Homo sapiens: one gene and its partners. The main gene of each other region encodes a partner of the protein of the gene in region 4 in a complex. Each region holds a gene or a part of one and is shown on either strand. Other genes may lie near its edges.

The links.
Region 1: STX4 (region 4) and BNIP1 share a complex: the UniProt entries of both Homo sapiens proteins name them as parts of the SNARE complex.
Region 2: STX4 (region 4) and STX5 share a complex: the UniProt entries of both Homo sapiens proteins name them as parts of the SNARE complex.
Region 3: STX4 (region 4) and STX18 share a complex: the UniProt entries of both Homo sapiens proteins name them as parts of the SNARE complex.

The regions. Positions count from the first base shown.
Region 1 is NC_000005.10:173,154,529-173,161,559, forward strand, and holds part of BNIP1 (vesicle transport protein SEC20), read left to right. Parts: intron 1-4,215; coding exon 4,216-4,317; intron 4,318-5,404; coding exon 5,405-5,523; intron 5,524-7,031. UniProt on the Homo sapiens protein: As part of a SNARE complex may be involved in endoplasmic reticulum membranes fusion and be required for the maintenance of endoplasmic reticulum organization. Also plays a role in apoptosis.
Region 2 is NC_000011.10:62,822,049-62,829,079, reverse strand, and holds part of STX5 (syntaxin-5), read left to right. Parts: intron 1-1,448; coding exon 1,449-1,519; intron 1,520-1,681; coding exon 1,682-1,737; intron 1,738-1,854; coding exon 1,855-1,925; intron 1,926-3,540; coding exon 3,541-3,657; intron 3,658-3,740; coding exon 3,741-3,797; intron 3,798-3,962; coding exon 3,963-4,044; intron 4,045-4,514; coding exon 4,515-4,621; intron 4,622-4,792; coding exon 4,793-4,914; intron 4,915-7,031. UniProt on the Homo sapiens protein: Mediates endoplasmic reticulum to Golgi transport.
Region 3 is NC_000004.12:4,539,032-4,546,865, forward strand, and holds the start of STX18 (syntaxin-18), read right to left. Parts: upstream 3,018-7,834; 5' UTR 2,934-3,017; coding exon 2,766-2,933; intron 1-2,765. UniProt on the Homo sapiens protein: Syntaxin that may be involved in targeting and fusion of Golgi-derived retrograde transport vesicles with the ER.
Region 4 is NC_000016.10:31,036,557-31,040,694, forward strand, and holds the end of STX4 (syntaxin-4), read left to right. Parts: intron 1-1,369; coding exon 1,370-1,478; intron 1,479-1,557; coding exon 1,558-1,634; exon of another isoform or gene 1,635-1,637; intron 1,638-1,953; coding exon 1,954-2,091; intron 2,092-2,984; coding exon 2,985-3,095; intron 3,096-3,166; coding exon 3,167-3,247; 3' UTR 3,248-3,262; intron 3,263-3,355; 3' UTR 3,356-3,608; downstream 3,609-4,138. UniProt on the Homo sapiens protein: Plasma membrane t-SNARE that mediates docking of transport vesicles. Necessary for the translocation of SLC2A4 from intracellular vesicles to the plasma membrane.

The DNA of each region.
Region 1 (7,031 bases), on a different chromosome or scaffold from region 4:
TTTTTTTTTTGAGAGACGGTGTCTCGCTCTATTGCCCAGGCTGGAGTGCAGTGGCCTGATCTTGGCTCACTGTGACCTCTGCCTCCCGAGTTCAAGCAATTCTTCTGCCTCAGCCTCCTGAGTAGCTGGGATTACAGGCGCCCACCATCACGCCTGGCTAATTTTTGTATTTTTACTAGAGACAGAGTTTCGCTGTGTTGGCCAGGCTGGTCTCTAACACTGGCCTCATGTGATTCACCCACCTTGGCTTCCCAAAGTGCTGGGATTACAGGTGTGAGCAACCACGCCCAGCCAATTGCATCAGTTACACACTGGTGGAATGTTCTCTCTCAGTCAGCAATAGTCAAGTGGGGGCGAGTGGGGAAGGGATAAATAGGGCCTATCTGAGCAGGTGGAGCTGAACATAGTTTACAAAAGCATATTTAACATTATACTGTATTGTATATTTTTAATCAAAAAATATGATTGCTTTTGTAATACAGGGTCATTTTTTATCTAAGGATAATTGGTACCAGAAAAAATCTACAGAAAGAAAACCTGCTGAAGGTGGACCAAAATTTAGAAGGTTTTGAGTGGGATGCTGTCTAAAAATAAAATAAAATAAAATGCAAGAAAAACCGTAAATTAAACAAAATTGAGGTCAAAAATTAAAACCAAAATCGAGGTTGTAATTGCAGGTGTGTGCTAATCCTTGATTATATAGTTACAGTTATATGCCATTTCTTGTTATTGAATTGGGAGAGGTTTAACTTTTCCAATGAAATTGTCAGACAACATGAAACAGTATCTTTCCCTTCACATTTGACTTTTGTACCAATCATAAAGAGGGTTTTTCCAAACATATTTGAGGTATTCAGATCATTCTCTCTCTTTTTTAAAAATACATTTTTGGCCCAGTGCGGCGGCTCACGCCTGGAATCCCAGCGCTTTGGGAGGCCGAGGTGGGCAGATCATGAGGTCAGGAGTTCGAGACCAGCTTGACCAACATGGTGAAACCCCTCTCTACTAAAAATACAAAAATTAGCCGGGTGTGGTGGCACACACCTGTAATCCCAGCTACTCGGGAGGCTGAGGCAGGAGAATCGCTTGAGCCCGGGAGGCAGAGGTTGCAGTGAGCCGAGATTGCTGCACTCCAGCCTGGGTGACAGAGTGAGACTCCACCTTAAAAACAAAAAAAAAATATTTTTATTTTTAAAAAATTAAAAAATTTTGGAAATGAGGTCCTTCTCTGTTGCCCAGTCTGGAGTACAGTCATAGCTTACTGCAGCCTCAGGAACTCCTGGGCTCAAGCGATCCTCTCACCTCAGCTTCCCAAGTAGTTGGGACTACAGCACACTCCACCGTGCCTGGCTAAATCATTCTCTTTTGAAACCCCTGCTAAGTTGTCATTCCCATGGGTTTTCTCTTTGTCTCTTGTTCACTGGTCTGCCTCTGCCAGATCTGTATTTGTGGCTTTGCTTCTGATTTGAGCAATTTGCCAGCATCATCTTCCCTGCAAGCAGCTGTGTATGTAACAGTCAGCTGTCAGGAAGACACCGACTGGCAAAAACACAGGCACAGGGAGGCCAGTGTAAGCAGGGAGGGCTGTATGAGTGGTGGGCAGTGATCCAGGGCTTGGCTATTTCACGAATACTTTATGTTATGATGGCTTTTGCTTTCCTGAGCCACCAAGCCTACTCAGATTATAAACACTGAGTACAGAGGAGCCCTTGTATAAAGTATGGTAAGTTATGCCAGACACACTCAGCTTAGCATGGGTTTAAAGCTGGGAATGGCCATCCACAATGTAGCATTACAGGCCAGAGCAGAGAAAGCTGTCAATTTATACTTTGGGGCTATGTGCAGTAGCTCACACCTATAATCCCAGCACTTCGGGGGCCGAGGCAGGAGGACTGCTTGAGCCCAGGAGTTTAAGACCATCCTGGGCAACAAAGCAAAACCTCATCTATTAAAAAAAAAAAAAATTAGCTGGGGGCATGCTGATGTGTGCCTGTAGTCTCAACTACTTGGGAGGCCAAGGCAGGAGGGCAGTGGGCTCGGGAGGTCAAGGCTGCAGTGAGCCGTGATCATGTGACTGCACCTGGCCTAGGAGACAGAACGAGACCCTGCCTCTTTTCTTTTGTTTTTTTTTTTTTTTGAGACAGAGTCTCACTCTGTCACCCAGGCTGGAGTGCAGTGGCGCAATCTCGGCTCACTGCAAGCTCCACCTCCCGGGTTCACGCCATTCTCCTGCCTCAGCCTCTCCGAGTAGCTGGGACTACAGGCACCCGCCACCACGCCTGGCTCATTTTTTATATTTTTAGTAGAGATGGGGTTTCTCCGTGTTAGCCAGGACGGTCTCGATCACCTGACCCTCATGATCCGCCGGTCTCAGCCTCCCAAAGTGCTGGGATTACAGGCGTGAGGCACCGTGCCCAGCCGACCCTGTCTCAAAAAAAAAACAAAAAAAACAAAAAAAACCAACTTTGGCAGTTGAAGCAGTAGTTGTGCTTGCTTGGGTCATCATGCTTGTCACACCATACAGTGAGTATCTGTTTGCTTGTCTTTTTCCCAAATGAATGTGAGGTGGTTGAGGAGAAGTACTGCCCCTCATTCATCTCTGGATCCCAGGGTCCTGCAGAACCCCCTTGCAAACTGTTTCAAAATGTAATGGATTCTTTAAAGTGGCAGGTGTGAAATGGCGGAGCAGGTGCTCATTAAGACCTTCAGCATAAAGGTGCTATTAGAAAACCACCCTGTCAGTTCATGTACTCTGTGTTTTGATTTTTGAGTATTTCCAGAGATTAGCACAATTGGTTTGAGCTGGCTACATAAGAGTTCTGAAGTATGAGTTTGATTCTTAGAGAGACGCAGTTAGCTTTTTTATAGTCTATCAACAACTGTCAACATTTCTTTTTTTTTTTGAGACGGAGTCTTACTCTCATTGCCCAGGCTGGAGTGCAGTGGCGTGATCTTGGCTCACTGCAACCTCTGCCTCCTAGATTCAAGTGATTTTCCTGCCTCAGACTCCCGAGTAGCTGGGATTACAGGCACTCGCCATCATGTCCAGCTAATTTTTGTATTTTTAGTAGAGACAGGGTTTTAACATGTTGGCCAGGCTGGTCTCGAACTCCTGACCTCAAGTGACCCACCCGCCTCGGCCTCTCAAAGTGTTGGGATTACAGATGTGAGCCACCACGCCCGGTCAACTGTCACATTTCTAACTCCAGGAAGCTGTTCACCAACTTTCCGTTATCACCCACAAGTTAGCGCAGGTGAAGACTGTAGATCCGCCGTGTCAGTCAGGGCTCTGCTAATCCATCATGTTTGTGTCATTCATGATTGGTCTGTAGTATGGAAAGAACAACAAACCTTGAAGAAATATTTTGAAAGATTGGCTTTTTGTGTGTGTGTGTGTGTTTTTTTTTTTTTTTCTTGAGAGAAGGTCTTACTCTGTCACCCAGGCTGGAGTATAGTGGTACTATCACGGCTCACTGCAACCTCCACTTCCCAGGCTCAGGTGATCTTCGCTCCTCCGCCTCCTGGGTAGCTGGAACCACAGGCATGCGCCACCACCATGCCTGGCTAATTTTTTGTATTTTTAGTAGAGACGGGGTTTCTCCATGTTGCCCAGGCTGGTCTTGAACTCCTGGGCTCAAGTGATCCCCCCACCTCGGCCTCCTAAAGTGCTATGATTACAGGTGTGAACCACTGTGCCTGGCCACGATTTTTTATTTCCTACAAAGTATATTAACTCAGCAGCTGAAGGGCCAGAAATGGTTGTTCAAGATACTGGAGATGAGTAAGTCATGGTTCTCCGGGGATGGTACCAATTAATACACAGGCCATAGCAGTACAGCCTTAGAGGCAACTGGACTGAAGAGGGGCCTTGTGTGACCAGCTGGGAAGTTTGGATGCCTCCCTGAAGTCCAGCCATTGTGGAGCTGTGCACAGAGGAGTGCCATGTTCACAGCCCCTTGGGCTGACGGGGGCAGAGTGACAGCAACAGAGCCTCCCCGTGGCGACCTCCAGGGTCCGGTCAAGGGGTATCAGGACCTGAGCAAGAACAGTTGCTGGGGAACCAGGAGGCGGAAGTGGCAGGAGGTGGGATGGGCTCTGAAGGCCGTGCCTGGTGGCCTTCTCCCGTGTGCCTTTGTTGGGGGGAAGTGCTGTGAATTGAACTGACTTATGGCTTGGTGGAGTGGACACACTCACACGTGAACCTTCCAATTCCAGCAATCAGGCCTCATGGAGGAAAGCTAATCTCACCTGCAAAATTGCAATCGACAATCTAGAGAAAGCAGAACTTCTTCAGGGAGGAGATCTCTTAAGGCAAAGGTACCTATTCTTTTATTTTTCTGGGCTCCGATAATAATAGATAACAATTGGCAAGGTGTAGGAAACCCCCTCTTGTTTTCAGCTTGGTGCTTAATTTAATTACATAAGTAATTTTTTTAAGTTTGAAAAAAATGCATACTTATTTGTAGTAAATTGGTAAAATAAAGTATGAATTACAAAATTAAAATATTGAATTTTTTTTTTTTTCTGAGATGAAGTCTCACTCTTGTAGCCCAGGCTGGAGTGCAGTGGTGCCCTCTTGGCTCACCGCAACCTCCGCCTCCTGGGTTCAAGTGATTCTCCTGCCTCAGCCTCCAAAGTATCTGGGATTACAGTTGCGTGCCACTGCACCCAGCTAATTTTTTGTATTTTTAGTAGAGACGGGGTTTAACCACGTTGGCCAGGCTGGTCTTGAACTCCTGACTTCTGGTGATCCACCCACCCCAGCCTCCCAAAGTGCTAGGATTATAGGCGTGAGCCACCATGCCCGGCCGAAAATATCAAATCTTATTACTCATGAACATTTTGGTATATTCTCTCCCTCATTTTTATTTCTACATTTCTTACAAAGTCAAAATTGTACCATACATAAAATTTCATATTCTGCTGTTTCAGCACAAAAGTTGTTCATTAAAAAAAAAAAAAAAGCTTTTTAAGCCTAATTCTAACAGTACATAGTATGTAGATTGTATGTTAATACAATTCCCTGTGTGTGTTTGCATTTCTAGTGTTTAAGTAGTGTAAGTAATACACCAGGGCATGTCTTAGAACATAAGGCTTTATCCACATTTTGGATGTTTCCTTTGGAGGGATTTCCAGGGATGAGATGATTGAGTCAAAGGAATGAACATTACCAAGGCTCTTCAATTGGCAAATTGCTTTACAGAAGGCAGCACTGGTTTATGTTCCTACTAGCAGTCCACAGGGGCGTGGGTCTCAGCACACCCTTTCCAGCATTGAATGTGATCATTTAAAATATGTATACTAATTGGATAGGTAAAACATGAGATCTCATTTGGATGTGGGGCCTTCTTGCAGGGAGGCTTTTGTTGACATTCCTCCCCTTTCTCTTCCTCTGAACTTTTAGGAAAACCACCAAAGAGAGCCTGGCCCAGACATCCAGTACCATCACTGAGAGCCTCATGGGGATCAGCAGGATGATGGCCCAGCAGGTCCAGCAGAGCGAGGAGGCCATGCAGTCTCTAGGTAAAGCTGGGCCTGGAGTAGGAAGCTTCTCCCAGAGACGCTGCTCTAGGGCCCTTGCCCTGGCACCTCCACTCTGGGCTCCTCCACCACAGCCCACACGATGTTCACTGACTTGGGTGGCTTCTCCCTCATGAGATGACTTGACACCATGGTCTTATCCAGTGTGGGATGTGCTGCTCCTATTTCTCTTTTTTTTTTTTGAGATGGAGTTTCGCTCTTGTTGCCCAGGTTGGAGTGCAATGGTGCGATCTCAGCTCACCGCAACCTCTGCCTCCTGGTTTCAAGCGATTCTCCTGCCTTAGCCTCCCAAGTAGCTGGGATTACCGGCCTGCACCACCACACCCGGCTAATTTTGTATTTTTAGTAGAGACGGGGTTTCTCCATGTTGGTCAGGCTGGTCTTGAACTCCCAACCTCAGGTGATCCGCCTGCCTCAGCCTCCCAAAGTGCTGGGATTATAGGCGTGAGATGCCACGCCCGGCCCGTATTTCTGTTTACTAGAAGACCCCACACCCCCATCGATGTTTCCTCAGGGGGAGCATTCCCATGTGTTCATGTGAAAGGCAGAGGTCCCAGCCCCTCTCCTAGAGAGGGTGTCGGCAGGGCTGGGTGAGGGGCCTGGAGTCTGATTTTCAGTGAGGGCTCTGGGGACCCATATGGCCAGGCAAGTTTGGGAATGGTTGCTCCAAGAGATGTTTGGCGAATCAGCTGCTGGTAGGACTGCTAGGACCTCAGTTTACAATTATACTCCCCAACGTTATTTTTCCTATGAGTTCCTTTTAAAAGATGTGAATCAGAGGCTACAGGAGAGACTGCTTGAGACCATCTGGTTTCCTCCAATAGTTTTCCCAGAGTGTCTCCTCTGTGATGGAGAAGAGTATCAGCCCTCTCCAGGGTCCTTCAGTATAAGACAACAGAAAAAGGGCGTTTACTCCTTGAAACGCTTTTGGAAAATTGCACACGTGGACAAAAGGAGAAAGCATGGTATCCTGAATCCCCTGAGCCCTGAGTCCATTACCCCAGCCAGTCTCGTTTCAGTTCTACCCTCAGCCCATCCCCCATCTGGATTATTTTGAAGCAAATCCCAGACATCATCCATAAATATCTCAGTACATCTCTCTAAAAGATAAGGGACTCTTTGGGGAAAAAGCAGAAGCAACCCCATAACTACAATACCATGATCACCCCTAGAAATTATAATTTTGGACCACTGTTTTTTCAGTGCACCAAATAGGCAGAAGCAAAAGGAAAGCAAGCAGGTGACCCCAAGGTCACTCCTTGAGTTTGCAGCTTACCTGAACATCTGGGCTCGGAACCAGCCAGGGGCTTCCTCTCAGCGTGTGCTGTGGGAGAGGCCTTGGAGAGAGAGGGAGCAAGGCGACAACTTGGCCTCTGAGCCCAGGGCTTTTATGCTCTGGTGTGGCGACAGCATACCCCCCGCTAACAGTGGGAAGGAAACACAAATGCTGGTGGCTTCTGGGGTGTTGAGAGGGTCCCGGTGTTCTTGGG
Region 2 (7,031 bases), on a different chromosome or scaffold from region 4:
TTGTTTGTTTGTTTGTTTTTGAGACAGTCTCTCTTTGTTGCCAGGCTGGAGTGCAGTGACGTGATCTGGGTTCACTGCAGCCTCCACCTCTGGGTTTAAGTGATTCTCCTGCCTCAGCCTCCCAAGTAGCTGGGAATACAGGCGGTGCCAGGACACCCAGCTAATTTTTGTATTTTTAGTAGAGACGGGGTTTCACTGTGTTCGCCAGGATGGTCTCTGTCTCTTGACCTCGTGATCTGCTTGCCTCGGCCTCCCAAAATGCTGGGATTACAGGTGTGAGCCACTGCACCTGGCCAAGTAACTGTATTTATTTATTTGTTTGTTTGTTTGTTTATTTATTTATTTATTTATTTTGAGACGGAGTCTCGCTCTGTCACCCAGGCTGGAGTGCAGTGGTGGGATCTTGGCTCACGGCAGCCTCCACCTCCCAGGTTCAAGTGATTCTCCGGCCTCAGCCTGCTGAGTAGCTGGGACTACAGGTGCATGCCACCACACCTGGCTAAATTTTTGTATTTTTAGTAGAGATGGGGTTTCACCATGTTAGCCAGGTTGGTCTCAATCTCTTGACCTCGTGATCCGCCTGCCTCAGCTTTCCAAAGTGCTGGGATTACAGGCGTGAGCCACTGCACCCGGCCGAGTAACTGTATTTTTAAATATTTTTACTGATGGCTGGACATGCTGGCTGGCACCTGTAATCCCAGCACTTTGGGAGGCTGAGGTGGGAGGATTGCGTGAGCCTAGGAGTTCAAGACCAGCCTGGGCAATATAGCAAGACCCTATCTCTACAAAAAGTTAAAAATTAGCTAGGTGTGGTGGTGTGCCCTGTAGTCCCAGCTACTTGGGAGGCTGAAGTTGGAGGATCACTTGAGCCCAGGATGTCGAGGCCGCAGTAAGTTATGATCATGCTACTATATTCCAACCTGGGAGACAGAGTGAGACCCTGTCTCAAAAACAGAAAAGTTATAAAGAAGTGTTTTTCAGCTCATGGTAAAGCTGCTCTTCTGTATGATCTCCAAGAGCTTTGCAATCATCCTTATTGATTTCCTGATTTGAGGAATAGAATGGCAATACTAGATACCATTTATTTAGTGCTTACTATGTACCAGGTAGTTGACTGAAGTACTTTTCAGCCTTTTTGTTATTTAACCTTAGCAACAATAGGAGATGTGTGGATTGTCTTCATTTTATAGAAGAGAAAGTAGAGATTTAGAATGTTTTAAGTAACTCGCCCCAAATCCACCAGCTAGTAGTAAGTGGTGAGTCAAGATTTGAACTCAGGTCTACCTGCTCTTCAAATCTGGACTCTAAACGACTACCACTCATAAATCTAGATCATCTGATGGATGCCACCAGCACTAGAGATAGGTTAGTGGACACCTCAGGAAGAGTGAAAGCTGGAACTGGGGAAGGGAGAACTAAAGTTGTCACCTCCTGCCATTGCTTTTCAGAATGGAATCCAGACAAATAAGCCAGCTTTGCGTGCTGTCCGACAACGCAGTGAATTCACCCTCATGGCCAAGTGAGTTGAGAGAAGCTTTCTGGTGGGGTGATACAGTGTCTGAAGAAAAGTAGACTTGCAATCAGTGGCCTTGGCTGTGAAGTCTGGGATTGGTTATGCTGGAGCTTATGTGGGAAAAGGCGTCCTGCCCTTTCCCACAGTCTGACTAGTGGTCATTTGCAGGCGCATTGGGAAAGACCTTAGCAACACATTTGCCAAGCTGGAGAAGCTGACAATCTGTGAGTGTTCTTGGGGTCTTTCAGAAGTGGGGCAGTAAATCAAAGAGGGTTGAGGACTATATTCCCTGAGCTTTGTCCTTGACCTCACCCATTGTGGCTTCTTGTTTGTCTCTGTAGTGGCAAAGCGCAAGTCCCTCTTTGATGATAAAGCAGTGGAAATTGAAGAGCTAACATATATCATCAAACAGGTGAGCTACTAGCCATCAGGAGAGCCCAGCATTCCAATCAGATCACTTCTGTCTTCCTGTCATTTTCCATTGCCATGGGGACCCAGAGCAAGTTTCTTTTTTTAGAGAGGGGGGTCTCACTGTGTTGACCAGTCTGGAGTGTAGTGGTGTGACCTAGCTCACTGCAGCCCTTAACTCCTGGCCTCAAGCTTTCCTCCAGCCTGAGCCTCCTGAGTGGTAGAGACTACAGGGACATGCCCTCATTCCTGGATAATTTTTTTTTTTTTTTTTTTTTTGAGGCAGAGTTTTGCTCTTTCACCCAGGCCGGAGTGCAGTGGTGCGATCTTGGCTCACTGCAACCTCCACCTCCCAGGTGCAAGCGATTCTCCTGCCTCAGCCTCCCCAGTAGCTGGGACTATAGGCACCCGCTACCAATGACTGGCTAATTGTTTTATCTTTAGTAGAGACGGGGTATGCCAGGCTGGTCTCGAACTCCTGACCTCAAGTGAGCCGCCCACCTTGGCCTCCCAAAGTGCTGGGATTACAGGTGTGAGCCACTGCACTCGACTGTAATAATAACTTTTATTTTATTTATTTATTTATTTATTATTATTTTTTGAGACAGAGTTTCACTCTTGTTGCTCAGGCTGGAGCACAGTGGCGCGATCTCAGCTCACTGCAACCTCTGTCTCCTGGGTTCAAGTGACTCCCCTGCCTCAGCCTCCCGAATAGCTGGGATTACAGGCACGTGCCACCGCGCCCGGCTAATTTTGTATTTTTAGTAGAGACAGGGTTTCTCCACGTTGGTCAGGCTGGTCTCAAACTCCTGACCTCAGGTGATCCGCCCACCTCAGCCTCCCAAAGTGATGGGATTACAGGCGTGAGCCACCGCGCCAGGCCAATAATAACTTTTTTTTTTTTTAAGACGGAGTCTCACTCTGTCGCCAGGCTGGAGTGCAGTGGCGCGATCTAGGCTCACTGCAACCTCCACCTCCCAGGTTCAAAACGATTCTTTTGCCTCAGCATCCCAAGTAGCTGGGATTATAGGCGCGCGCCACCACACCCAGCTAATTTTTGGTATTTTTAGTAGAGATGGCATTTCACCATGTTGGCCAGGATGGTCTCAATCTCTTGACCTCATGATCTGCCTGCCTTGGCCTCTCAAAGTGGTGGGTTTACAGACATTAGCCATTGAGGAATTGTGTGTATGAAAATAGTTCTGTTGATGCCTCTCGAAACTACAGTGCCTTTGACTCTTCCCTTTTCCTGAGTACTGTCCGGGGGCTTTGTTGGTCATGCCCTAGACCCGAGATTTTGGCCTTTGAAAGGGTTCTGTGGCCAAGAGCATGGCCTCACAGAATGGAGCAGGGCAGTAGGCTGGAGGAGTAAACAAGTTATTTACAATGGATGAAGGCCTATTTTGCCTCTTTGTAGCTCTTCTCTGCAGGGACTGAGCCAGAGCAAACACTAGACCTTGGAAAATCCTAGCAGGCCCATCTGGTCTGACTGTCTGAGATACTCTCACTCTGGCTAGTAACTTCCACCTTGTCCTTCCTACCAGAGATGGCCATCGTGAGAGATGCTGACTAAGGACTCCTTGGCTAATACTTTGTTTTTCCTTGGACTCTTTTACCAGGACATCAATAGCCTCAACAAACAAATTGCTCAGCTCCAGGATTTCGTGAGAGCCAAGGGCAGCCAGAGTGGCCGGCACCTGCAGACCCACTCCAACACCATTGTGGTCTCCTTGCAGGTGGGACCTGGGGAGGAAGGGAGGGAGGCAAAGAGGAAGAATGTGGAGCCTTCTTTGGTTGACCCTCTCTCCTTTTCTTCTAGTCGAAACTGGCTTCTATGTCCAATGACTTCAAATCGGTTTTAGAAGTGAGGACAGAGGTGAGAACAATCTGCGTAGGAGGGGTAGGAATATGGGAGTAAAGATCCAAGAGGGAAATGAAGAAGGGACAAGTTCTACAGGGTCATGGGGCCAATGGTGGGAGTCTCTTTAACATGCCTGCTTTCTAGTGGCTTCAGGTCCTTTGCGTTTTTCCCCAACCCCAGAACCTGAAGCAGCAGAGGAGCCGGAGAGAGCAGTTCTCCCGGGCACCTGTGTCAGCCCTGCCCCTTGCCCCTAACCACCTGGGTAAGTCACAGGTAAAACGGGGAGCCCTGGGAGGTAAGGTTACTTACTCTGGTTGTGATGGCATCCTCTAAAGGCACGGGTTGGGTAGGAGAGTGGAAGGTCAAGGAATTTTCTAGGCTTTATCTCTCAGAGGCCAAACCAGATGGTTGAGATTCGTGATCCACATTTAGACTCCCACATTCTCACTGTTGGGGTGAATTCAGTTATATTCAGAATAATGATAATTTCTAATTTTTTTTCGTACACTTTATTCACATTCTCTCATTTAATTTTCACAACCACCCTTTGAGAAAGCAACTATTATTATCCCCCATTTTACAGGTGAGGAAACTGAGGCTCAGAGAGGTTAAATGACCTGTCCAGGGTCACAAGGCTAGTAAGTGCTAGAGCTGGGATTCAAACCCAGAGCATGTGGGCTTTGAACCTGCTTTTAACTGTTAAGGTGTGCCACATCCTGTTTTCTCCCCCAGGCGGTGGTGCTGTGGTTCTGGGGGCAGAGTCCCATGCCTCCAAGGATGTCGCCATCGACATGATGGACTCTCGGACCAGCCAGCAGCTGCAGCTCATTGACGAGCAGGTACCCAGGCTCTGAACTAGGTAGAATCAGCTTCTCCATTATCCTCTGTGGTTCCCGAGAGAGTGTTTGGAGTGTGCCATGGGCAGAATGGCAAGCTGGGAGGGTTGTAAAAATGCAGGTCTGACCCTGAAGAAGCTGTTGGTGCTCATGTGCTCTCTCCCTCTCCTGAAGGATTCCTACATCCAGAGTCGGGCAGACACCATGCAGAACATTGAGTCGACAATTGTTGAGTTGGGCTCCATCTTTCAGCAGTTGGCACACATGGTTAAGGAACAGGAGGAAACCATTCAGAGGTGAGATACACTCTCTCGCCCCAAACAGAGGAGCTTTCTCTTCCCCGTGGATTGGCATCTTAAAGTCCCCAGGGACTGCTTGATGCCTTTTGGAAGATAGAGTGAATTCTGCCCACCCATGGGACCCAGTTCACCTGCTTCCATCCACCCAACAAGTTTTTATTGAGCACCTGTTCATGTGAGGCACTGTTCCAGGTGCGGGAGATACAGTGGCAAGTAGAACAGTAAAGTCTGTCTGGAGCTGCTTTGTAGCATGTGTAAGTGTATGGAATTTGATAGGGCAGATGAGGACAGCTGTGGAAAAGAACTGACAAGGCTGGCACAGTGACTCACACCTGTAATCCCATAGGCAGCACTTTGGGAGGCCGAGCAATGCAGATCGCTTGAGTTCAGGAATTCAAGACCAGTTTGGGCAACAAAGCAAGACCCTGTCTCTACAAAAAAATACAAAAACTAGCTGGGCATGGTGGCATGGGCCTGTAGTCCCAGCTACTCGAGAGGCTGAGGTGGGAGGATGGCTTGAGCCTGGGAGGCAGAGGTTGCAGTGAGCCAAGATCGTGCCACTGCACTCCAGCCTGGGTGACAGAGCCAGATTCTGTGTCAAAAAAATAAAAATAAAAAATTGACCAACAAAATTTCAGGGAGTAATAAAGGCTGTATACAGAGTTAAAATAGGATGATGTGTTAAGAAAGTAATGGATGGGTACGGTGGCTTACACCTGTAATTCCAGCACTTTGGGAGGCCCACACAGTCAGTTGAACTCAGGAGTTCAAGACCAGCCTGGGCAACATGGTGAAACCCCATCTCTACAAAAATAAAAAAATTAGCTGGACATGGTTGCGTGTGCCTGTGGTTCCAGCTACTCGGGAGGCTGAGGCGGGAGGATGACTTAAGCATGGGAGGTTGAGGCTGCAGTGAGCCATGATGGAACCACTGCGCTCCAGTCTGAGTGACAGAGCAAGACCCCATCTCAAAAAAAAAAAAGAAAGTGACTAAGTAGGTATATCAGATTGTGTGGTAGGGAATGCTGCTCTGAAGACATGACATTTAAGCAGAGACTTGAATGACAAGAGGGATCCAACCAGGCAAAGAACAGAGAGTGTTCTAGGCCGAGGAGACAGCTAGAGCAAAGCCTTGTGATGGGACAGTCTCACCATAGCAAGAATCAAGAAGGCCTGCGTGGCTAGAAAGTAATGAACAGGGATAGAGAAGTACAGGGTGTACTGGAGGGATGTAGGCAGAGGCCCAACAATGGGCTGGCCTCTCTGTTCCTCTGGTGCCTCCTGCTACTACAAGAGTTTTTATCTGCTCCTCCTCTGTGGTGCTTAGCATTCAGTCAGTCAGTTATGGGAATATAGCAGTGGACAAAAGAGACAAAATCCTTGCCCTTGTGGAACGTGTATCCTAATAGGGAGATAGATGTGAAAAAGTCATAATAAATAGTATGTTAAAAAAAAAAAAGGTCGTAAATGCCAAAAAAAAAAAAAAAGATAGTCAACACAGGATAAACTAATCAGGAGTGCCAGGTTTGGAGGGAGGTAGGCCCTATTAAGAAGGTGGCATCACACTTGGGAGAAGGTGAGGAAATTAGCTACATAGACCCTGGCAAAGGCCCGCAGGTGACAATATGTTTGATGAGTTAAAGGACAGCAGAGACTACTGCAGCTGGGATCAATGAGGAAGAGAGTTGTACAAGGTGTGGTCAGAGGGGAACTGTGAGACCTCTTGGGACCATTGGTAGGCTTTAGCTTTTACTCTGAGTGACATAGGGAGCCATTGCAGGGGTTAGTTTTTCTGTGTTTGAGACAGAGCCTTGCTGTGTCGCCCAGGCTGGAGTGCAGTGGCATGATCTTGGCTCACTGCAACCTCCACCTCCTAGGTTCAAGTGATTCTCATGCCTCAGTCTCCCGAGTACCTGGGACCACAGGTGTGCACCGCCATGCCCGGCTACTTTTTGTATTTTTAGTAGAGACAGAGTTTTGCCACATTGGCCAGGCTGGTCTTGGACTCCTGGCCTCCAGTAACCTGTCCACCTTGGCCTCCCAAAGTGCCGGGATTACAGGTGTGAGCCATCACAACTGGCCAAATACATTTAACTTTATTTATTTATGCATGT
Region 3 (7,834 bases), on a different chromosome or scaffold from region 4:
AAGCAATCAGCCTGTTGTTGGAAGGTAGGGACTGCAATAAAATTGCAGTTTCAATGCAATTTTATTCAACTTAATATAACCTCTACAACAATTCAGTGAGATGGAAATCTGGCATCAGGCATATATTTGAGGAATGGAATGGAAGAATAGAAATTGAACCAGATAAAACGCATCCTAGAAGTAACAGCAAATGCTTCAAGGAAGGCACTTACCAAAAGGCATACTATAACTTATTACATTTCATTAAGTCTGACAACCAGGGCTAAACCTGAATTAGAATATGTGCTTCTGGTATTTACCAGACTTTTCTCTATAAGGAATCCAGGCCAAACAAAATAACAGCCAAACTTTTGACATCTAATTGTAGTAAAAGCACAGGACATCCATCACTAGCTCTTCTAGTTAAACTTCCCACAAGAGAAGATGGGGAGTGGGGAACGGTTGCAAGAACAGGAGATAATACACAAAGCAATGACAACATAAAATCAAAATTGCTTAAAAGAATGTATGTTTCCTCTACGTCAGGGGGACAGTGTCCCTGAACAACACAGCCCATGAACTCACTTAAGGTGATGTGACACCTACTCACATCAATACATAGCAGAACTGCAAGTTGCATTGTCATGCGGTCCAACCCTGTGACATATGCACAAAGCTTTTCTCAAACATCTCTGAAAAGCAGTCATCACTCTGTTTAATCACTTCCAGTGACAGGGAACTCAGCACCCTATGGGACTGTTACTGTCCCTGAGGCCCATTAACTCAAAACTCAAACACATTTTCACCACTCAGGGAGAGGTGGAAGTGATCACAGGGCTCTCCAAAGGGCTTGCCAACCCAACTGTGCCTCCTGTCTCTACCATTCCCAAATCCCCCCTTTCCCTGAGCAGGACTCAAAATTAGCACAGTGTTAATAAATCAGTGGTTTCAGAGTTAGAAGGGACCCTTAAAAAGCCAATACTGTGATATTCATACCACAGTTCTACAAAAGGAATCTCAAGAAGTGCTTGGGCCAAACTGGGAGGGAGAGTGTCCTGTTTCTCTTCCTCTTATTTCAACCTAGGAAGCTCCCACTTTAATTTGTTACATATAGAGGACCAAGGTAGTTTTTTAAAAGGAGGAGGAGAAAAAAAGGACCATTTACAGGTAAATAAACTGAGGTCTTAAAACTTGCTTAATGAAATCATATAGCTAATAGTTGCAGGGTTCAGACAACAACCTCGTCTCTTGGCTCCTTCTCTGGTGCTTTCTCTACCAGATAACATCTGACCATCTACAGGGCAAAATTCAAACTCTGCAATGATACACAAAGCCCTTTAAGATCTCCGCGTCCAATTTTTATGAGAGTCCCACATTCCAGTCTCACTCAAATGTTTATTGAACCAACTTATGTCAGACTGTTACCTACCTCCACAGCTTAGCGCATACTATTCTCTTAGCCTGAGATGTCCTTCTGCACTGGAACCAACTAATCCTCTTTCAAGATTTGTTTTAGGCATCATCGCCTCTATAAAGCCTTTTCTGGTCCTCAGGTAGAACTGACCACATTCTTTTTGTGCCCTACACAACACCTGCAAGGCTTTATGGCACTTGTTTTATGTCTATGTCCGTCTACTCCACCACTGCTTTTACATCATATTACTCTAACACGAGGCTGGTCAGAAGGTAGGTGCTTCATAGACGGTCATCAATAGGGCGAGTGTATTCATCTGGTCCAATCCCCTTTCTAATGTTTAAGTATCCTCTGCTAACTGTCATTAATGCATGCATGACTACATTCATTCAAAAATATCTGAGTGTCTATACAGTGCCAAGTGTATGCCAAGCAGAGAAGGATTTACTGTGAAATTAATGAGGCTTAAGCTTTAGGGTCCCTCTCTTCAATCTTCCAAAGCTCTGAATCTTTCTTGGTGATTTTTATTTCTTGAAGAGGGCAGACAGAACTATATAAGCTGTAGGCCCCACAAAACCTAGATACCTCCTTGGTGTCACGAACACAAAAGGGAACAAGACAAACAGCTCTCCCCTTATGGAGTTTTCTGTTTAATGGGAAAGACAGCCATTTGTTCATTCACTCATTCAACAAACATTTACTAAGCAATGCTATGAGTCATGCATTCTGAGATGAAAACAACACTGTCCCTGCCCTTAAGGAAAAGGTTCCTGTTCCCAGGGAGATGAAGGGACACCTGCTCTGATCAGGGAACAGAAAGTAGTTGAGGTGACTGTAACACTGTGTTTGCGAAAGATTACCCTAAACCCGTCTCAAGAGGAACTGAGTCCTACTTATTGCAGAGACAAAGGGAAGAAAGAGTTCGGCTGAATACAGTTTTTAATCTCAACTAGGGGTGGGAGGCAGACAAGTAAATAGAACAGGCAAATATGGTGTGGTCAGTGCTGCAACAGGAAGCGAAGGACTGTCAGGAGGTTTCCCCTGAGTGCAAGTCTGTAGTGACGGCGAACTCATGACCTCACAAAGCCGCCCATGCACTTTCCAGATAGAGATTTCTGAGGATCTCCTTTCTTGTCCCCCAATCCCTGTCGCCGCAGGAGAAATCTGTTCCCCAATATGCGTCCCCCTTCCTCAAAATAAGGCTGTTCCTTCCCCCAAAAAGCTGTAGGGTCTCTGAGGCCAACTCTTCTGTCCCCCTTAGAGCCACCCCCTTCACACAATGCTTACGGGACGGGGTCTGGTTTGGGGCCCGGGGTCCCTGTCGCAGGACTGCCCCCTCCTCAACCCGCCGTTTCCATAGCAACCAGCTCACCACTTCGCGGGCCCGGCTGGAGAAGTCGCCCTTGGGCCGGGGGCTCCGGCGGAACAGCTCGTCCCGGCTGCCATCGACCCCGCCGCCCACCGCCACTCCCAGCGCCTTGTTCCGCGTCTTCACGGTCTTGACGCTGGCCCGGAATAGCAGCGTGATGTCCACCGCCATAGCGACCCGCACCCTCAGCCCCACACTAGGCCCGCCCACGTAAGCAGCCGGCGACCGCGGCGCGAACCCGGCCGCTGAAGGACTGGTCCTGCCCCACACGCCTCCCCCCGGCAACGGCGACGCGAGAAGAAAGGTTCCGGCCTGCGCCCTGCTACCGCGGCGGGAGGAAAAAGGTTCCGGCCTCAGCCGGCGCACCTGGCGGAGGAGGAACCTCGCGACGCGCTCTCGGGCATCGGTTTCTCCCAGCAAAGCTTGGAGGGTTTAGCTGCGCGGAGAGCTCAGCGAGCTCTTCTGTGTCTGTTTGGGGCGTGTGGGCTCCGGGAGCGTGAGGACCGGGAAGCTAGGAGGCTCCTTCCCTTCTGGCGGCTCCCTCACTGAGACCGGGCGGTTTGGTTGCGGGGGAAGTGGAGACGAGCCACCCTTGACCTTTGACTGCAAGAACTCACCTTGAGCAGGATAGAGGCACGTGGACGGTGACCCTCGGGATGCAATAAATGCTGAGACAGATCAGGTGTGCAAGGCACAGAGCTAGAGGCCAGAGGCCTTTCTTCTCCAACCTTCAGTCACCTCTTTTTAAAGTGAAGCCAGCATCCTCCTCGGGGTTTACTGTGAAAATTAAGTGAGCTGACGCGTGCTGTGTTTTGATGTTGCTTGGCTCCTAGTAAGTGGCCAATAAATGGTAGTAATCGTTAATAATGTTATTATTATAATCACTGTTATTTGTGGTAAAGGAAGAGGCTTTAGAGAAAAGGCGTCACCTGTGCAGAGATTTGAAGGATGAATAGGAAGTTTAGATGGAGACAAAGGTGAAAGAGTGGCCCTAATGCCGCTGGATTCTCTTCATCCTTCATGCATAGTTTTTAATTGTACCGTCTTGAGCCATAGCTATTAAAATTGACAACTCAATCAATGAGTTTCTTCTGCATTTTAGGTTCATGTTCTGTTTTGTGTTGTTTTTTGAGACGGGGGTCTACTATGTTGCCCAGGCTGGATTGCAGTGGCTAGTCAGAGGCGCCATCCTAGCTCACTACAGCTGGAACGCCAGGGCTCAAACGATCCTCCCGGACTCAGCCTCCTGAGTAGCTGGGACTATAGGCACGTGCAACCGTGCCTGGCCTATGGTTCAGTTTTAATTCAAAATCTCATTGATTTCTTCAAGATTTCTTTTTTCATAAAGAGGAAGCACAAGTAGAATATGTATTAAAACAGCAGTTTTAATGGTCATCAAGATAAAATTTTCACAATACTAAGATGTTATTTGCCTTTTCGCTCTGATTTTCTTATGAGTTGCATACAGTTGAGTTTGCTGGAGACTGTGATATTGCAACGGAGTAAATGCAGAACAGCTGTTTTCTATTAAGCCAGACTCCAAAAAAAGACTTTCAAAAACATCAAGTTTTTGTTTTGATTTCTCATATAGTAAATGTCGATAATGTCAATATAAACCAAAATTGTTTAGAGCCCTTAATAATTTTTAAGTGTGCAAAAGAGTTGAGACCAAAAGTTTGAGAACCACTGTGTTAAAAAAATAAAGTTTATCAGAAATAGATGTCAAGAAAGTATATATTTACCAGAAAGGAGGAAGGAAAAGATTTTTTTTTTCTTTGAGGCGGAGTCTTGCTCTGTCGCCCAGGCTGGAGCAAGCTCCGCCTCCCGGGTTCACGCCATTCTCCTGCCTCAGTCTCCCGAGTAGCTGGGACTACAGGCGCCCACCGCCACGCCTGGCTAATTCTTTTGTATTTTTAGTAGAGATGGGGTTTCACCGTGTTAGCCAGGATGGTCTCGATCTCCTGACCTCGTGATCCGCCTGCCTCAGCCTCCCAAAATGCTGGGATTACAGGCGTGAGCCACCGCGCCCGGCCAGGAAAAGATTATTTAAACCCAAACTGTAGCCACTTCTTGCAGTTTAAGGAAAATAAATTTCCATACAGCTTTCTTCCACCTACTGAGGAAAAGAGAAAGAAATTACAAAATCTCTGCCAATGATTCTATCTTGCATAAATGGCCCTTTGTTTAATCCAGACATTAATCAGTTTTTGGCCATGCAAAGTTAAGCCTGGGGTAGAGTAGAAGGAAAGAGAGATTGCCCTGCATAATAAAGTGAGGGGGATTGAATTGGGGGGAAGAAAAGAGAAGCCAGAACCCAGGGAGGGGGCCGGGAAAGTACAAAGTAGGTAACTGGGAAGGATCTTTGAGTGGGAGGGAGGCTGAACTACACCAAGCCTTCAGTGAGTGGTGCCTTGTGTAAACCGTGTGTTTGGTGCAGTTGGATATTTTGGGTAGAAGGGTAGGGACAAAGATCTAAGTTTTCTGTCTGGATTTGCAAGAGCAGAGAAGATTGTGGTGGATATAAGACCCAAGTGAGCTCAAAACATCAGGCTGTAAATCCACAAGTGACCACAAGTACATAAAATTCCTAAATAAGTCACAAAGATCTTGAGGAGGCTGCTGAACTTTCCACAGACCATGGGATATGGGGTTGTGCTTTTTACATTTTGTGTTTACTCTTTAATTTAAAAGAGCAAAGTGACTTCAGTTGACAGTTGACTAATATTAAGCCCCATAAAGCTGAGAGGGGATGTGGGTTAAAAGGATGTGCAGAAATGTTGTGAGAGTATACTACTGCAACTCCAGGGCTCAAACAATCCTCCCGGCTCAGCCTCCTGAGTATCTGGGACTATAGGCGCGTGCCACCATGCCTGGCCTGTTGGAGGTAGCACACAACTGCCCAGTTGGATGTAGTATACAAATTTTGTTTTCTTTATGCATTCAGCAAACATTGAGTGGGCCAGACACTGTTCTGAAAAATACGCAGTCGACTTTTGAACAGCACAGGCTTGAACTGCATGCGGCCACTAATACTCGGACTTCCTTCTGCCTCTGCCATCCCTAAGACAGCAAGACCCACCCCTCCTGCTCCTCAGCCTACTCGATGTGATGATGGTGAGTATGAAGACCTTTACTTTATGATGATCCACTTCCATTTAATGGATAGTAAATATATTTTCTCTTCCTATGATTTTCTTAATACCATTTTCTTTTCTCTAGCTTACTTTATTGAAAGAATACAGTATCTAATACATATGACATGCAAAATATGTGTTAACGGACTGTTTATGTTATTGATAAGGATTCTGGTCAACAGTAGGCTATTATTAGTTAAGATGTTAGGGAGTCAGAAGTTATACACAAATTTCCAACTGTGAGGGGTGGAGGAGTCATCAAGGATCAACTGTATTGGCACCCCTAAATATAGCTCACTACAGCAGCAACACCTATGCAAGGAGACTAGATGTAGGCTGCCAGTGAAAACCAACGTGTAATTTCTGGGCAGCAAATTTAAGAGCTAATGTATGATTCACGATGCTCTTTTCCCTCTGCTATGACAACCCTTAATGTTCCAATGTTCCATCAGCCTGAGTCCTTAAGTAAAGATGACATGGAGCATAGCCAACCAAGGACATTGTATTAGTCAGAGTTCTCTAGAGGGACAGAACTAATAGGATAGGTGTATATATAAAGGGGAGCTTATTAAGGAGTATTGACTCACATGATCACAAGGTGAGGTCCCACAATAGGCCATCTGCAAGCTGAGGAGCAAGGAGAGACAGTCCAAGTCCCAAAGCTGAAGAACTTGGAGTCTGATGTTCCAGGGCAGGAAGCATCCAGCACGGGAGAAAGATGTAGGCCAGAAGACTAAGCCAGTCTAGTCTTTCCATGTTCTTCTGCCTGCTTTTCTTCTGGCCATGCTGGCAGCTGATTAGATTGTACCCACCTAGATTGAGAGTGGGTCTGCCTTTCCCAGTTCACTGACTCAAACGTTAATCTCCTTTGGCAACACCCTCACAGACACACCCAGGAACAATACTTTGCATCCTTCAGTCAAGTTGACACTCAATATTAACCATCACAGACATGTACTAAGATTGAGAATTGTCCACAGATTTGTGGGTGTTTGTTAACTGCAGCATAATTAGCCTGTCCTGATTGATGACAACCCATATCTAGGTATCTACCAAAACAGGAATATTAGATGTATTCTCCACTCACCATCGTAACAGTATTATTCCTCAGTGAATGAAGCATGGAGAGGAAAGAACAGTTGTGCCTAAACCTAACCAATGGAAAAGACCAGGCTGGCAGGGACAGAGTGGCAGAAACCTTGGAAGACTGTGACCATGGCAGGGTAGAATTTATAACACAAGAGGAAAGGCCTTCAAAAACATATACCTTCACGTTAGGAGGTAAACTCAATGAAATTCATTGAAAACCATTTTTCCCCCCTCAGGGACTCTGGAAAGGACCCTGACTCTAGGGGTGGGAAGCTCAAAGAAGAAGCTTTTGTTCCCAAGAGGGAACCTAGATAAAGAATTCAGGGTGGATTTCTCTTGTTTTTTTTTTTCTTTTTTTTTTCTTTCTTTCTTTTTTTTTATTTTTTTATTTTTGAGATGGAGTTTTGCTCTTGTTGCCCAGGCTAGAGTGCAATGGCGTGATCTCAGCTCACTGCAACCTCCACCTTCTGGGTTCAAGCAATTCTCCTTCTTCAGCCTCCCAAGTAGCTAGGATTACAGACGTCCTCCACCATGCCCAGCTAATTTTTTGGGGGGTGTGTATTTTTAGTAGAGATGGGGTTTCACCGTGTTGGCCAGGCTGGCCTCGAACTCCTGACCTCAGGTGATCCACCCACCTCGGCCTCCCAAAGTGCTGGAATTACAGGCATGAGCCACTGAACTCGGCCCAAGGTGGGTTTCTTCCGGCAGCTCCCCCAGAAGTTTAGCTTTGAAACAGATGTGCAAAAAAAAGCGAGGGAAAGGCAGGAAGCAAACAGGAGGTTGTTGTGGTCCAGCCCTTTGAGGTGTGGCCTTTGTCCCCCCACCGCCCATTGAAGTAATATGGTTTGG
Region 4 (4,138 bases):
CAGCAGTGAACCAGTGATCCCTGTCCTCATGGAACTTCCCTTCTGGTGTAGACAATCACCATAATAAATAAGTGAATTATTTAGAACATAATAAGCATTAAGGAAAAAAGAGCAGGGGAAGAGGGACTAAGCATGCTGGAGGAGGTAGAGTTGCAGTTGAAAGCAGGTGGAGGAAGCTTCATTCAGAAGGTAACATCTGAACAAGAGACTTAAAGGTGTTTGCTGGGAATGAGCATTCTAGGTAGAAGGAAAAGTGAATGCAAAGGCTTAAGCTGAGAGTGTGCTTTGTCTAGGGAGGGGTAAGGAGACCAGTGTGGATGGGCAGAGGAAGGGAACAGTAAGAGGAAGTAAGATCAGAGAGGTCATGGGAGAAGGAGAGATCATAGAGGGCTAGCCAGGCACCGTGGCTCACGCCTGTAATCCCAGCACTTTGGAGGCTGAGGTGGGAGGATTGGTTGAGCCCAGGAGTTTGAGACCAGCCTGGGCAATATAGTGAGACCCCCCCCCCTTTTTTTTTTTTCCTTTGAGACAGGGTCTCACTCTGTTGCCCAGGCTGGAGTACAGTGGTGCCATCTCTGCTCACTGCAACCTCCGCCTCCTGGGTTCAAGCCATTCTCTTGCTTCAGCCTCCCAAGTAGCTGGGACTACAGGCGCCCACCACTGCACCAAGCTAATTTCTGTACTTTTAGTAGAGATGGGGTTTCACCACGTTGGCCAGGCTGGTCTTGACCTCCTGACCTCAGGTGATCCACCTGCCTCAGCCTCCCAAAGTGCTGGGATCACAGGCATGAGCCACCGTGCCCGGCCAACCCTGTCTCTATTAAAAATAAAAATAGGCCAGGTGCAGTGGCTCACGCCTGTAATGGAGGCCGAGGCAGGTGGATCACAAGGTCAAGAGATCAAGACCATCCTGGCCAACATGGTGAAACCCCATCTCTACTAAAAATACAAAAATTAGCCGTGCGTGGTGGCGCGTGCCTGTAGTCCCAGCTACTCGGGAGGCTGAGGCAAGAGAATTGCTTGAACCCGGGAGGCCAAGGTTGCAGTGAGCCGAGATTGTGCCACTGCACTCCAGCCTGGGCAACAAGAGTGAAACTCTGTCTCAAAAAACAAATAATAAATAAATAAATAAATAAATAAATAAATAAATAAATAAAAAAGATCATGGAGGACCACATAGGCCTGATAAGGGCTTTGGCTTTTAGTCTAAGAGAAATGGGGGAGCCTGTCAAGGTCATCACAAGGTGGTTAAGGTGGCAGATCCCGCATAAGAGCTCATGCTATTTGCTCACTGTACTATGGGGTTGCCGAGGCACCGACCGGGCAGGGATCCTCCCAGGGGCACTCAGCCTATATTCTTCATCTTTAGCATGGGGTCCTGTCCCAGCAATTCGTGGAGCTCATCAACAAGTGCAATTCAATGCAGTCCGAATACCGGGAGAAGAACGTGGAGCGGATTCGGAGGCAGCTGAAGATCAGTGAGTTGTGCATGCCCAGCCTGGCCCGCAGGGGCAGGTAATCCCAACCCAACCCTGAGCCTGGCCTTTTCCTTCACAGCCAATGCTGGGATGGTGTCTGATGAGGAGTTGGAGCAGATGCTGGACAGTGGGCAAAGCGAGGTGTTTGTGTCCAATGTGAGTGGCCACAGCCAGCCCCTCTCTGCTGTGCCTCCCATCCCCTCTGAGTCCTGTCCGTTTCTCGACCTCCTGGGCTCAGGTGATCCTCCTGCCTCAGCCTCCCGAGTAGCTGGGACTATAGGTGCAAGCCACTGCACCCCGCTTGCTGTGGCCCTTTCTGATTAAGGGCACCCTGAGGCCTCTAAGGGAATTAATTAGCCTGCCTGGAGTCACCCATCAGATTCCAGGCTGAGGGCTCCCCAGAAGCTCAACAGGAGTTTCTGACCTGCTGTCGGTCTCCCTGTGAACAGTTGCCCCACTCCTGTCCACCCCCCAGATCCTGAAGGACACGCAGGTGACTCGACAGGCCTTAAATGAGATCTCGGCCCGGCACAGTGAGATCCAGCAGCTTGAACGCAGTATTCGTGAGCTGCACGACATATTCACTTTTCTGGCTACCGAAGTGGAGATGCAGGTGGGTGCCCCGCGCAGCCCCAGACGTGAGACCAGGCTCAGTCCAAACTGCCAGCCTCCCGCCACCCTTAGATTCTCTCCCTGAGGCTTTTGTGTCTTCCAGGTTTGGCCATGCCCCCAGATTGGTGCTTATTCCTATCCTTAGCTGTACCCCGAGAATGGCACCTGCCTCTGCTGCTACACAGATGCCCACTCCCTTCTGCATAGCACCCTGCCCCCTCTCCAAAACTTGAGCCTGCCCAGGTCTGGCCCCAGCCCTCACTCCCCCTCCACTAACAGCATCCACCCTTATACCTCTCAGAGGTCCAGTCAGAGTTGCCCTAGAGGGGCTGCCTCCTAACATCTGTACAAGGCTGGGGTGGGGGCGGCGTTCCCCTGGCCCTGGTTGTGAGTTGAGTTGAGCTTCCAGCCCTGTCCTGGAGGAGCTGGCCTCAGTCATGCTACAGCCAATGCCCTTTTGCAGCTGAGACTTACAGGAAAGAGATCTCATTCAGTAGGAGTACTGAGACCTGAGGCTGGTGGTGCCAGGAGGAGGCAGGGATAGGGAGGGCTTTGCAGCAGCTGTAGATAGGCCTGGAAGAATGGGTAAATTCAGACAGATTTGTGAAGGCACAGTTCACCATCTGTGAAAGGTATGAGCCATTTGAGGCCCTTAGCTCCAAGCTACCACTGCAGATAGAGGTTGTATGGGATAAGTGAGCAGGGGACAAGGGACTACATGATAGAAGGGGCCTGGAAGCCATCCCCAAGGAGTCTGAACTTTTGTCAGATCAAGTCTTGCCCTTGTCTTTGTTAGTGCAATTTTTTTTTCCTGCCAGGAATGTTCTTCAGTCATCTGGGGTGGGGTGGGCAAAGGCATCCTTACCTCCCTGAACCACCCCATCCTCTGAGCAGGGGGAGATGATCAATCGGATTGAGAAGAACATCCTGAGCTCAGCGGACTACGTGGAACGTGGGCAGGAGCACGTCAAGACGGCCCTGGAGAACCAGAAGAAGGCGAGGAAGGTGAGCCTCCCAGGCCCGGCCACTGCCCCAGGCACCCTGTGTGACTTCCCTGACCCCCTCCTCTCCCACAGAAGAAAGTCTTGATTGCCATCTGTGTGTCCATCACCGTCGTCCTCCTAGCAGTCATCATTGGCGTCACAGTGGTTGGATAATGTCGCACATTGTTGGTGAGATGTTGTGGGCTGCCCCCTGGCCTGCCCCAGCCCTGGCCCCAGCCCTCCCTCCTCCCTCAGACCCTGTTCTCCCTCCTTTCCTTACAGGCACTAGGAGCACCAGGAACCCAGGGCCTGGCCTTCTCTCCCAGCAGCCTGGGGGGCAGGGCAGAGCCTCCAGTCGGACCCCTTCCTCACACTGGCCCCTATGCAGAAGGGCAGACAGTTCTTCTGGGGTTGGCAGCTGCTCATTCATGATGGCCTCCTCCTTCAGGCCTCAATGCCTGGGGGAGGCCTGCACTGTCCTGATTGGCCGGGACACACGGTTTTGTAAAAAATTAAAAAACAAAAAAAGAGCATAGAAAGCCCTGTGCACGTGTGTTCCTGGAAGGGCTGGCCCAAGGCTTCCGGGCATCCAACCTCCTTACCTCCTGGACGTCCCCAGGGCCAGGTCTGGCCCTGGCTGCTCAGGTCAAACTGCCAGGGGTGCTGTGCCCACAGCAGGCTGGTTCTGCCTTTCTGCACCCCCATAGGAATGGGTGGGCAGGGAGGGGTAACACCGGCATCTAGCTCCTGGCTCAGTACTGTCCCCGGGAAAGGACCACTGTGAGTATCTGTCTTGGAAATGATGAGGCTGACCAGGCCAGGCTGGGACGCAGGTGAGATGGGGGTTTGGGTGGCATCAGTGGGCCTTCTTGTGGCCCAGAGGAAGAGGCACCATGAAAAAATGCCTAATTGAGGCTGTCACTTTGGATGCAGTGGATAGGGATGGTCTGGTTTCAGCAGGGATGACATTGGAGTGGGATGTTAAGCTGGGGAAGAGGTTGCCAGTCAGAAAGCACAGGAGGCCGGGCCCTGTGACCAACAAAAGCATCATCTTTTACATAAGCG